Linked DNA regions of Homo sapiens. The protein of the gene in region 3 interacts with the protein of the main gene of each other region in a pairwise test. Each region holds a gene or a part of one and is shown on either strand. Other genes may lie near its edges. The genes, in order: RIIAD1, TPTEP2-CSNK1E and ZNF618.

Evidence for each region.
Region 1: the proteins of ZNF618 (region 3) and RIIAD1 interact in a two-hybrid assay, tested with the Homo sapiens proteins (one large-scale study listed by BioGRID).
Region 2: the proteins of ZNF618 (region 3) and TPTEP2-CSNK1E interact in a two-hybrid assay, tested with the Homo sapiens proteins (one large-scale study listed by BioGRID).

What each region holds. Positions count from the first base shown.
Region 1 is NC_000001.11:151,724,440-151,727,481, reverse strand, and holds part of RIIAD1 (RIIa domain-containing protein 1), read right to left. Parts: intron 1-3,042.
Region 2 is NC_000022.11:38,396,701-38,400,450, forward strand, and holds the start of TPTEP2-CSNK1E (casein kinase I), read right to left. Parts: upstream 2,216-3,750; 5' UTR 1,738-2,215; intron 1-1,737.
Region 3 is NC_000009.12:113,874,670-113,878,419, reverse strand, and holds the start of ZNF618 (zinc finger protein 618), read right to left. Parts: upstream 2,112-3,750; 5' UTR 2,040-2,111; coding exon 2,007-2,039; intron 1-2,006. UniProt on the Homo sapiens protein: Regulates UHRF2 function as a specific 5-hydroxymethylcytosine (5hmC) reader by regulating its chromatin localization.

The DNA.
Region 1 (3,042 bases), on a different chromosome or scaffold from region 3:
TGAGACACAACCATCTTGGGAGTCAATAAATCCGCAGACTCCTGACAAAGACCCTTTCATTCATGATTTTCCTTCAACTCCGTATCTAAGGCAAGGAGTGAAGCATCCTAAATGGCAATACACTAGGATATTGCTTACGTCGAGAAAGAGCTGTGCTGCAGCCAAGTGGGGCTTGTCATTCCGTCAACAATCTTGTTTATGTGTGCATTTATTTATTTATTTGAGACAGCGTCTTGCTCTGTCACCCAGCCTGGAGTACAGTGGCGCGATCAACCTCCCTGGCTCAAGAGATCCTCCCATCTCCAGCCTCTCGACTAGCTGGGACTACAGGCATGTGCGATGGCTAATTTTTTTTTGTAGCGGCAGAGTCTTACTATGTGGCCCAGGCTGGTTTCTAACTCCCAGGCTCAAGCGATCCTCCTACTTCGGCCTCCCAAAGTGCTGGGATTACAGGCGTGAGCCACGGCACCCGGCCTCAACGATCATTTTCACTGAACCAGATCTCAAGCCAGGGGCAAGAGGCAAAGATGAAGAACATGCCGGCCGGCCCACGAATGGTGGGAGATATGCAGCCCCACAATGTCCTGAGTAAGCTTAACCATGAATTCAAGGGGCAGAGGGAGATACAATAAACAGAGCTAAAAGATGGACCGCAGATGGTTATTGGCCCCTCAGTCCAGCAAGGAGACACTGTGGTAACACCTGCAGGGCCAATGCCACTAGAGAGTTGAAAATGCCTTACATTGCATAGAGTTTTATGGTTCATAAAGTATGTTCACAAATATTGTCTCACTTTACAACAACCCTGTGAAACAACCATTATTATGCCCCCATTTTACATCCAAAGAAACCAAGCCTTCAAAAGATTAATGATTTGCCCAAGTTCATAAACTTGGTAAATGAAGTAAAGAGGGCCCAGGTCTTGTGACTCCAAGGTCAGTGCCCTCTATAATATGTTCTCTTGGCCAAGGCCTCCCAACTCCCCAAGAAGCCCCTCCTTCCTAACCTTCAAGAATTTTGCCCCCCTTCTCCTTCAATTCATTTTGATAATTATTGGGCACAAATTATGTGCAAGTAATTGCACTAGATATGAGTGACTGCTTTTTTCAAAATAAAATAAAATATAGCCCTACCTCAAATAATTTACAGGTAAGTAAAAAGGAAGAGGTTAGTTTCCAAATGTCCAAAAGGCCAAGGAACCTCTGACAAGTGCTAAAGAGGAGTATTAAATAGTGCTCTGGGAGATCAGAGTGGGGAGAGAGGTTACTGAGAGGGGGACCCCAACAATCTTCACAGAGCAGCTGGCATTTGAGAGGACCCTTGAAGTACACATGGGATTGTAGTAGGCAGGATGAGGGTTGAGGGACAAAAACATTCCAGATCCAGGGAAACAGCAAGAGCAAAGGCCCAGAAAGAGAAACAGTTTGTGTTCTATAGACTATGACTTCCTTGAGAGTAGGAAGTGGGTTGTAGACACCTTTCTATCTTGAGTCCAAAAGAGCACTCAAGAGGCATCTGTGCCTGAGCTCCATAGGGTCAGCAGAATGAGCAGAAATGTGGTCTGGCTTGAGTGAGGGACGCATGCAGGGAGTAGTGGGAAACAGAAGAGGTTCTATTACGGAGAGCCTTGAATGCTGGGGAGGGACATTTATACTCAATCTGAAAGACAATGGAAATAGACAAAACATGGCATAACACATGCTGGAATATTATACAGCAGTGAGAATGGAGGATCTACAAGATACGACTGAGCAAAAGGAAACAGGCACAAAAGAGCACATAGTGTAAAATTCCATTCATATAAAATACAAAAGCGCACAATAAATCCGTGCTAGTAGAAGTCAGGATACTGGCTACTGTTTTAAGGGGAGTGACTGGGAGGGGCACAAAGGATGTGAGGTGTTGGTAAGGTTCTATTTCTTCATCTGAACAATAGTACCATGTGTATTTTCACCCTCTGACAGTTCATCCAGCTTAGGATATGTCACTTTTCAGTATATTTCAATAGAATTTTTAAAAACAAACCCAAAAAAGCAACGTTGTGGAACTACTGAAGATTTTTCCAGCCAAGGAAGGACATGATTACTGCTGTATTTGTAATCCCAGCACTTTGGGAGGCCGAGGCAGGCAGATCACGAGGACAGGAGTTTGAGACCAGCCTGGCCAACATAGTGAAACCCCATCTCTACTAAAAATACAAAAAATTAGCCGGGCCTGGTGGCAGGCACCTGTAATCCCAGCTACTTGGGAGGTGGAGGCAGGAGAATAGCTTGAACTCAGGAGGTGGAGGCTGCAGTGAGCCGATATTGCGCCACTGCACTCCAGCCCAGATGACAGTGGGAGACTTCGTCTCCAAAAAAAAAAAAAAAAAAAAGGCGAGGTGCGGTGGCTCATGCCTGTAATCCCAGCACTTTGGGAGGCCCAGGCAGGTGGATCATGAGGTCAGGAGATCAAGACCATCCTGGCTAACGCAGTGAAACCCCGTCTCTACTAAAAAAAAAAAAATGCAAAATAATTAGCCGGGCGTGGTGGCGGGTGCCTATAGTCCTAGCTACTCAGGAGGCTGAGGCAGGAGAATGGCGTGAATACGGGAGGCGGAGGTTGCAGTGAGCTGAGATCGCACCACTGCACTCCAGCCTAAGCGACAGAGCGAGACTCCGTCTCAAAAAAAAAAAAAATACTTTCTACAATTTCATACCTGGCTATCTATCATATCTGCAGCACAAAACCTGAGGTTTCTGTGTACCTTAAAATAAGTCAGATTCCTACTCTTTCCATTTTTCAGGTCCAAAACTCAAGGTGTTAAGAGTTTGGTACGCTGTATTTACCAATATAGGCTGGAGAATTGTGGCTGAATGGCCATAAATCATTAGGATCTAAAAAACCCAAGTGGGGAGTTTGCTTCCCAGAAAGAACCCTTCAGAGCTTCTTTTGGCTTGGAATGTATCAACAGCAGATATCTGCAGAACAGACAAGGACAGGCACGGTGCTCAGGACTCTGCCCTCACTTCTCCCTTCTTCTTTTCTCATAGGAAGGACCAT
Region 2 (3,750 bases), on a different chromosome or scaffold from region 3:
GTCAAAGGGGGTTGTTCTCTGGTGGGCAGGGGTGGATCTCACAAAGTACATTCTCAAGGGTGGGGAGAATTACAAACAACCTTCTTAAGGGTTGGGGTCACGGCACCAAATTTCATACACGTCCGTGTGAAGAGACCACCAAACAAGCTTTGTGTGAGCAATGGCCTGGCCTGGGCTCAGAGGCCTGACACACACAGTGGCCAATTATACAGGACCCCCAAACTGGCCAGTGGACCACTGCAACCGCCATTTACTTTCTCCGCTGCAAGCACCATAGGCTGATTCAGGAAGATAAACTGAGGCTCAAGGAATTTCGAAGTGGAACAATACACCAAAGCCTTAAACCTGAAATGACTATCCTTTTCTGGGGGGTGGGGGGGAAAGAAAAAGAAAAAAAAGTTTCTGGGGCTCTCAGGGTGGCCCAGATGCCAGGGTCCCAGAAGTGGCCTTTTCTAGCTCCTGTAACTAAACCTGGCGGAAAACTCCCCGCCTGCTCACCCCATCCGCCCAAGAATGCGCCTTCCCGTCTTCGGTGGCCCTACCCAGAATCCCAAAATGTGGATTCCAACCCAGGCCCTGAACGTCTTCTCAAATCCCCGGGACTTACGTTGCGGCGCGCGCCCCGCTGTCGGGTCTTGCCCCTCGGGCGGTACCGCCCAGGCAGCCCTAAATCCAGCCTCCCAGGCCCCCAGCAGCGCCCTCCGCCCCTCCACCATCCCGTCCGGCTCGCAGTCGGGGCCAAATCGAGAGACAAGAGGGCTGTGCCTGAAACTGAGCGGTTTCACCACTTGGCACCTCCTGGCAGAAACTTCCCTTTAAAAAAAGAAAAGAAAAAAAAAAAAAGCAGCAGCACTTTTGGGCTAGCATTTCAATCCTTCCTGCCCTTTAGAGTTCCCAGTTCTGCTTCCAGCTGCCTTTGGGTGTTCCACTACAATTGAGTTGTAAAGATATTCTTTAAGTGTTTATAGAACATTAAGACTTAAGAAAAATCTTTAAAATTAGAGGAGGGAAAAAAAAGCCACCTTATCGCACACATCCAGGAAACGCAGCCCCGTGCATCCCTGCTCAGGGATAAGCAGGCGCCCCAGGACTCCCGGGGACAGATTTTTGGGCACCCGAGGGAGTCACCCGGCGCACCTCGGGGTCCGCGGAGAGGCCCAGCCCCTCCCGCGGTCCCTTAGACGCGCCCTCCGCCTGGCCCGTGTGGACCGTCCCGGCCATTGTTTACGGGGGAAGCCTGTCCCGACGCATTGTTTTGGCCATTTCCAACTTCCCCCGGCCCTTCCCGGGGTATCGCGGGGGACCCTACGCCAACGTCCCCCCTCCGCCCGCGCCCCAAGGGCCGACTGGGCAAATTGGGAGACCCGCCCCGCGGGGCGACCCAACTTTTCGGAACAGCCCCCCACCGCCCACCCCCGCAGACCCCCGGACCCCCGCTCCCGGCGGAGATTCAGGGAACCCCGCACCCCAAGCCCTTCTGAATCGTGCGGCGTGAGTGTGACGGCCAAGAGCGGATGCAGCCCGGGATCGCCCGCACCTTCCCGCCAGCGGAAGCGCAGGAGCCGGCTGGGGAGGGGGCGCCCTAGAAAGAGCAGCTAGAAAGCTGAGACGGGGAACTGAGGTCATCCTGGGGGGGGACAAGACAACGAGAGCCGGGCGCCTCGGGGGCGGCGCGGGAGCCTCCGCAGGACCAGGCGGGCGCCCCGGCTGGCGCGGGCGGGGGGCGCCCCCCTTTACCTGTGGCTCCGGCCCCTCGGCCATTTCCTCGCGCGGCGGCTGCCGGGACTGAGCTGACTCCACTCGGGCCGGCCGGGTTTGAAAGAGGAGGAGCGGGCGCGGAGGGGAGGGGGCGGGGAGGGCGGAGGGAGGGAGGCCTCGCGCAGTTTTCTCGGCCTTTTGTGCGGACACCTCCCGGATTCCGCGCCCGCACCCGGCCCCCCAAAAGACACGGGGAGCCGCAAGCGAGGGGTGCAGCCATCTGCCGAGGCGCCTAGTGCCTTCGCGCCTCCAAGACCCCCAACAAAAAAGGAGCGTCCCGCACCCCCACCCCCGCCCGGAGGATTTAGGGGCCGGGCTCACCTCGGGCGCGGGGCTAAGTGCAGGCGCGGGGGGGGTCCCTAGAGCCGCCAGGGCGCGGCGCGTCCGGCGCTGGGGGACTGTTGGGTCAGAAAGTGTTCAGGGAGCAGCTGCTGCGCCCTCCCTCGGCCCGCCGCTCGGAGACGCCCCGCCCCGCCCCACCCCGCCCCCGCGCCCACGTGACTAGCATAGGCCCGCCCCCGCTCCGCCCCCCGCCACAGACTCCGCCTCCGGGACGCGAGCGAGCGGCGAGCGCGCGCACTCCCAGTTATCGCTCGGCGACTCCCGCGCACGCACGCGCCGTGCCACCCTCCCCGCGCCCCCCGCCCCATACCCCTACTCCCGCCATCCGATTTAACGTGGCGGGCGAGCGCCGCGGCGGTAGCCGTGACAGGTACCCGGCGGGGGGGGCGGGGGGGGCCGCGAGGGTGTGCGCAGGCGCAGACCCGGGTCCCGTCCCCGCCGCCCCCTCCTCTGCAAGGTGTGCCCGGGCGAGGGGAGGGGCCCGCGGCCCGAACTCCTGGGTCACCCCGAATTACAAACAAAACCTTAACGCCGTTGCTCGCGGGTTAGAAGGCAGCTGTGCGCGAAAAACACCTCAGATTTTCTTCAAGCGTGAGGAAGGTCGAGAAGATAAAGTTTTTAAATGAGTATCTTCAGAAAGCTATTTAATTGTTCTGATTTTTTTTTTTCTGAAAGGACTGGGCTTGCGCTATTCTAACTTGAGATTTCTAAACTTAGACTAGGTTCCAAGAATCTACTTGGTTTTGATAGAAATCCATTTGGAGGAAACCGGGGACAAAAAAAAACAAAAAACCGCTACCCTTTCCCCTCCTCCCTACGCACAACTCATTTAAATCGTTTCCCAACTGTTTTTTTTTTCTTACTGAAAAAAAGGACAAAAAAAATCCTGATTCCTAAGGCCTGTGATATTTCCCCATTTTAAGTAAGCCTCGAGGAACCACAGACATAACAAACATATCCACAATTTTTCTACCCCAAAATGCAAACTAATGCAAATGTGAAATGGATCTATGCAAGTCGCTACCAACAAAATAGCCAAATATTTGTTTTTTTACTGGCCTTCGGCATATCCAAAATGAAAAAACTTTAAAACACATCAAGAAAAGCATTTAAAATATCTATTTCCTAAATCAAAAGAAAGAACGCACTACAGAAACGATCCGGAGCTGGTGAGCAATGCAATCTTAATAAATAGGAAAAGGAATTTGAGAAGACAGCTCAGCAAAGGGGAAGAATTTGCCAAGTGTCATGTTTTGCTGTCATTTTATATATAACTACTAACCCCCCATATGGTCTGGTTAGTCTTTTTTAAAAAGGAAGCCAATCAATTACTCACAATTAATTAGCAGTGCCGGTAGATTCTTAGGCCAGCACTAAAAAACTAAATTGGGTGAATTTTTTTTCACTCAAGTCCACTGATATTGATCACTTTTAGTATTAGGAGTCCTTTTCTGACAAAAGATGAATACCTATCTTTAAAATATATTTTTTAATCTTATTGTCACATTCTAAAACACAGTCCAAAAACACTTCATAAACAAGAAACTTCATTTAACTTTATGAAAACAAATGACTATGAGCCTTGCTACACAACAAAGAAACTATGAACAAGTGCAACCAGGTTGAGCCTTTAAGTGTAGCCTCATTCTA
Region 3 (3,750 bases):
TTTCATATTCCAAAGGCAAACCTTGGGTTTGGCTTTTGTTTGTATTTTGATTATTTTTCCTTTATTTTGTTGCTGCTAAAACCAGCTGAGTTGGTGTTATATCACATTTCTTCAGCAAAGTAAGTGTTCTACCAAGGAAGATGGATAAGAATCAGAATTTTCATCTCCTTTTTGCCCATCCCTCTTTTATCTTTTTCTTGTTAAGTCAGTAAAATTTGTGCATTTTTTTTTTTTGGTCACAAACCCCCCAAAATGATCAAGGCTAATGGATTTTTCCCCCTTTGAAAGTAATCAGGTTTTTGAAAAATAACAAATATTGATAAACTACCAACCCCACATCACAATCAAAGAGGCCTGAAACCAATCTAAATTTTTTTTAAGTAATAAATTTTTCAAATTGGAAGGGTGAACAAGACAGAAAAGGGAAAATTTTCTTCCTTACCAAGGATTCCTCAATCCTTGTCTTCATCAATTGATTCAGTTGCATGTCATAAAAAATGAGCTTCTGTGAATCCACTGTTAGTTTTTTCATAATAATGTTAATTATGCATATCTTATTTTAATGGCGGTCTCTCCTACAAATCTGTGGGCTACTCAATTTGTATAATGTATGAATTTACATTTTTTCCACTTAATATTGCTCAAAAAAGGTTCCTGACATTTTCTGGATAAAACAACAACAAAAAAGAAATGCCTAGACCTTTCAGGAAACAAAATCAGAAAACAGTCTTAATTATTCCATCAAAACAAAAAAAACACACACACACACAAAACCCAACAAATACAGAAAAAAAGAAAGAAAGGATTTCACTGTAACTTTTCTAGTTTCTGTTTTCTTTAGAATCTTAGGATTTAAATGCAGTAAAATGTAAATGCAAAATTAAAAAAAAAAAACTACAATTTTTGGGTGTGTCCAAAGCCAACATTTTAGGTTCTATTTTCTCTTTTAAATCCTTCGTTCGTGGAAATAGAAAAACTTTAAATATTGCCATATAGAGAAATTAGTCTTTTTTTGCCCGCTGAGCTAAACAAGTTCCAAATTACAATGAAGTACAATTTCTAATTGCTTCATAAAGCCAATTCTCTCAGTTTTCCCTAAACTCAACAATTTCCCTCCTTTCTTTATTCCAATTAGTTTTTTTCTCAAACTAAAATGAGTTGGGTACCCAAACTGACTTTGCTTTTAGGAGGTTTTTTGCTTTCTCCCCTCCAAGAACTAAATTCATTCAAATTCCAGCTTAATTTTCATTTACATATTATCTGGATTTGGCTTCAGAAATAAAAATTGTCTCCATGCTTCTGGAAAGATCAAAGTGAAAATTTTCACCCGAAAAAAGAAAAAAAAAGAATCTCTTACCCCTCCACTGCCTGGTAGTGCAAACTTTTGAAAAAATAAGAAATAAAAAATATTTCTTTTCAATTTTAATTTCTTTTTTATTTACAAAATAGTATCCTCTAGGTGGCGTCGTTTTAATGGGAAAAAACTACCGTTTGAAGAAAAATTAGAAAAAAAAAATTGAGAAAGGAAAATATGGCCTAAAAAAAAAGATTGTTGCAAAAATGGGGGACCTGGGGGGAAAGACCTCCCGGGGGGTCATCGGGGACCCCGAGCGCAGAGAGGGTCAGGGGAAAATTGCAAATTTGGGGGGGAGGGGGCAGAGCTGGAAGGGGTTGCATTTTTGCAAAATGTGAATTGTCCAAACTGAAATGGCTGCTCTGTTCTCTCGCCGCTTTGTTTTCTGGGCTCCGGTCCGAGCCCGGGGCCGGAGGGGGCGCTGGGTGGGGGCCCCAAAAGACCCCCTCGTCACCCCCACCCTCCTCGCACCCCGCAGCGCCCGGGGGGGTGCTCTCCGGACCCCGACCCTCCCGATTGCGCCCACAAAAAGCCCGCAAACGTGCCCAGGCACTTTGCATTTTGCAAATCTTGCAATGAAGTGGCGCAGCGCCCCGGGCCCCGGCCCCCCGGGGTCCCCCGCGCGGTGCATGCCCCCGGCCCCCCGTCGTACCTGCGGAGCCGCCGCGCCGCCCGGCTGGTTCATGGGTCCGTGCGGGAGGAGGCGGCCCCGGCGCGTCCTGCTCCTCCCGGGCCGGGCTGCTGGTGCGCGCACAATGCCGCCGCCGCCGCCGCCGCCGCCGCCGCCGCTCCCTCCTCCGCCCGCCCCGCTCAGGCCGGGGGGGCGGGGGCGCTGGGGGCGCGCGGGGGGGGCGCCGGCCCTCGCCCCCACCCCCGGCCCGCACCGGCCGCGCCGCGGCAGCCGCTGCCGCCGAGCCGCCCCTCGCGGGGCCGCCGCCGCCCCCCGCCGCCCTGCCCGCCCCCGGGCCGGCCTCGCCGTGCGGCCCGCGAGCTCGGGGCCTCGGCCTCGGCCTCCGCGCTGCCGGCCTCCGCGTGGCACACAAAGCCGGCCGGTCCAGGGGCGCGCCCGCCCTCCCGTCCGCCAGCCCCAGTGCCGCGGCACACCCGCCCCCCCAAACTTTCCCGCGCCGCGCCCTGCCCTCCCCGCGCCCCCCGCGCCCGCTCCCCGGCTCCCTTCTGCCCTCCCCCAGTCCCCCAGCCCCTCGGAAATGTCATTTTCACGCTGGAAAAAAAGTTCAGGGAGCCGGCTCTCGGCGGAACGCAAGAGGTTAATGGGAACTCTGTACCCCGCTGTACCCCCCCGCCAAAAAAAAACCAGATTGATTTTTGAAATAAAAGTTTTCAAGAGCTGGCTTGCTGGAAGACTGGAAGGCTTATTGGGAATATTCTATTGCCCTGCCACTCCTCCCAAAAAAACTAATGTAATAAAATAAAAGTTTGAAGGACTGGCCCCATGTCCGACAAGAGTGGTTAAGGGGACTCTAGCCCCCCAGCCAGACTGATTTTTAAAATAAATACTTGAGGAGCCGCTTTTATGTGAAATGCCAGTGAAGCGGCTGTTTCTGCCTATCCTTGCCAAATTAAAATATATATATGTATTTCTAAATAAAAGTTTGAAAAACTGGTCCTACAGTAAGACAAGAGGGGTTAAAGGTTAAGGGATATTAGCGCCCCCCACCCCCATATCCCCCAGTTAGGTTGATTTAGAGAAGGAAAATTTGAGAAACTTGCATGTGAAATAAAACGTGAACCAGGATATTTCTTTCCAACACCCCAAAATAGCCAGTTTTTTTGTTGTTGTTATTGTTGTTTTTTTTTTTTTAACTTGAGCAACTGCCTCCTTGTGACTTGGGAAAGTTTAAAAGGGATTTTTTTTTCTATTCTCTTCCCTATTCTCCTAAAAAATCCGATTTTTTAAAAATTGAAAGTATGAAGGACCTGCCCTATTATAGAGACAAGGAGGGATTACTGGATCCATCCTACATCTCCCACAACTGGTTGATTTTTGGAATAAAAATGTTAAGAATTGCTCTTCTATGAGATGCAAGGTGAACAGAAATCCTTCTTTGCCCCTCCCCAAAAGAAAACTGCAAGGGTACTTTTCAAAAATAAAAGCATTGGAAATTAAGAGTAACCAGGTATCTTCTCTCTGCCCCCACCTTCAAAAATCAAATGTTCTTTTTTGTAATGTTTAAAGAACTGGAGCAATATGAGACAGGAAAGGTTACAGAAATGTTTTCCCTACAATCCTCAAAAAAGTTATTTTTAAAATTTTAGGAAACGGAGGCACTGTGTAGAAGACACCTCCTTTCCCTAATAAGTTAAATTGGGAGTTTAGCCCTATATGGGAGACATGAAATTAAGAAACACAACTCTTGCCCCCCTTAACAAACACT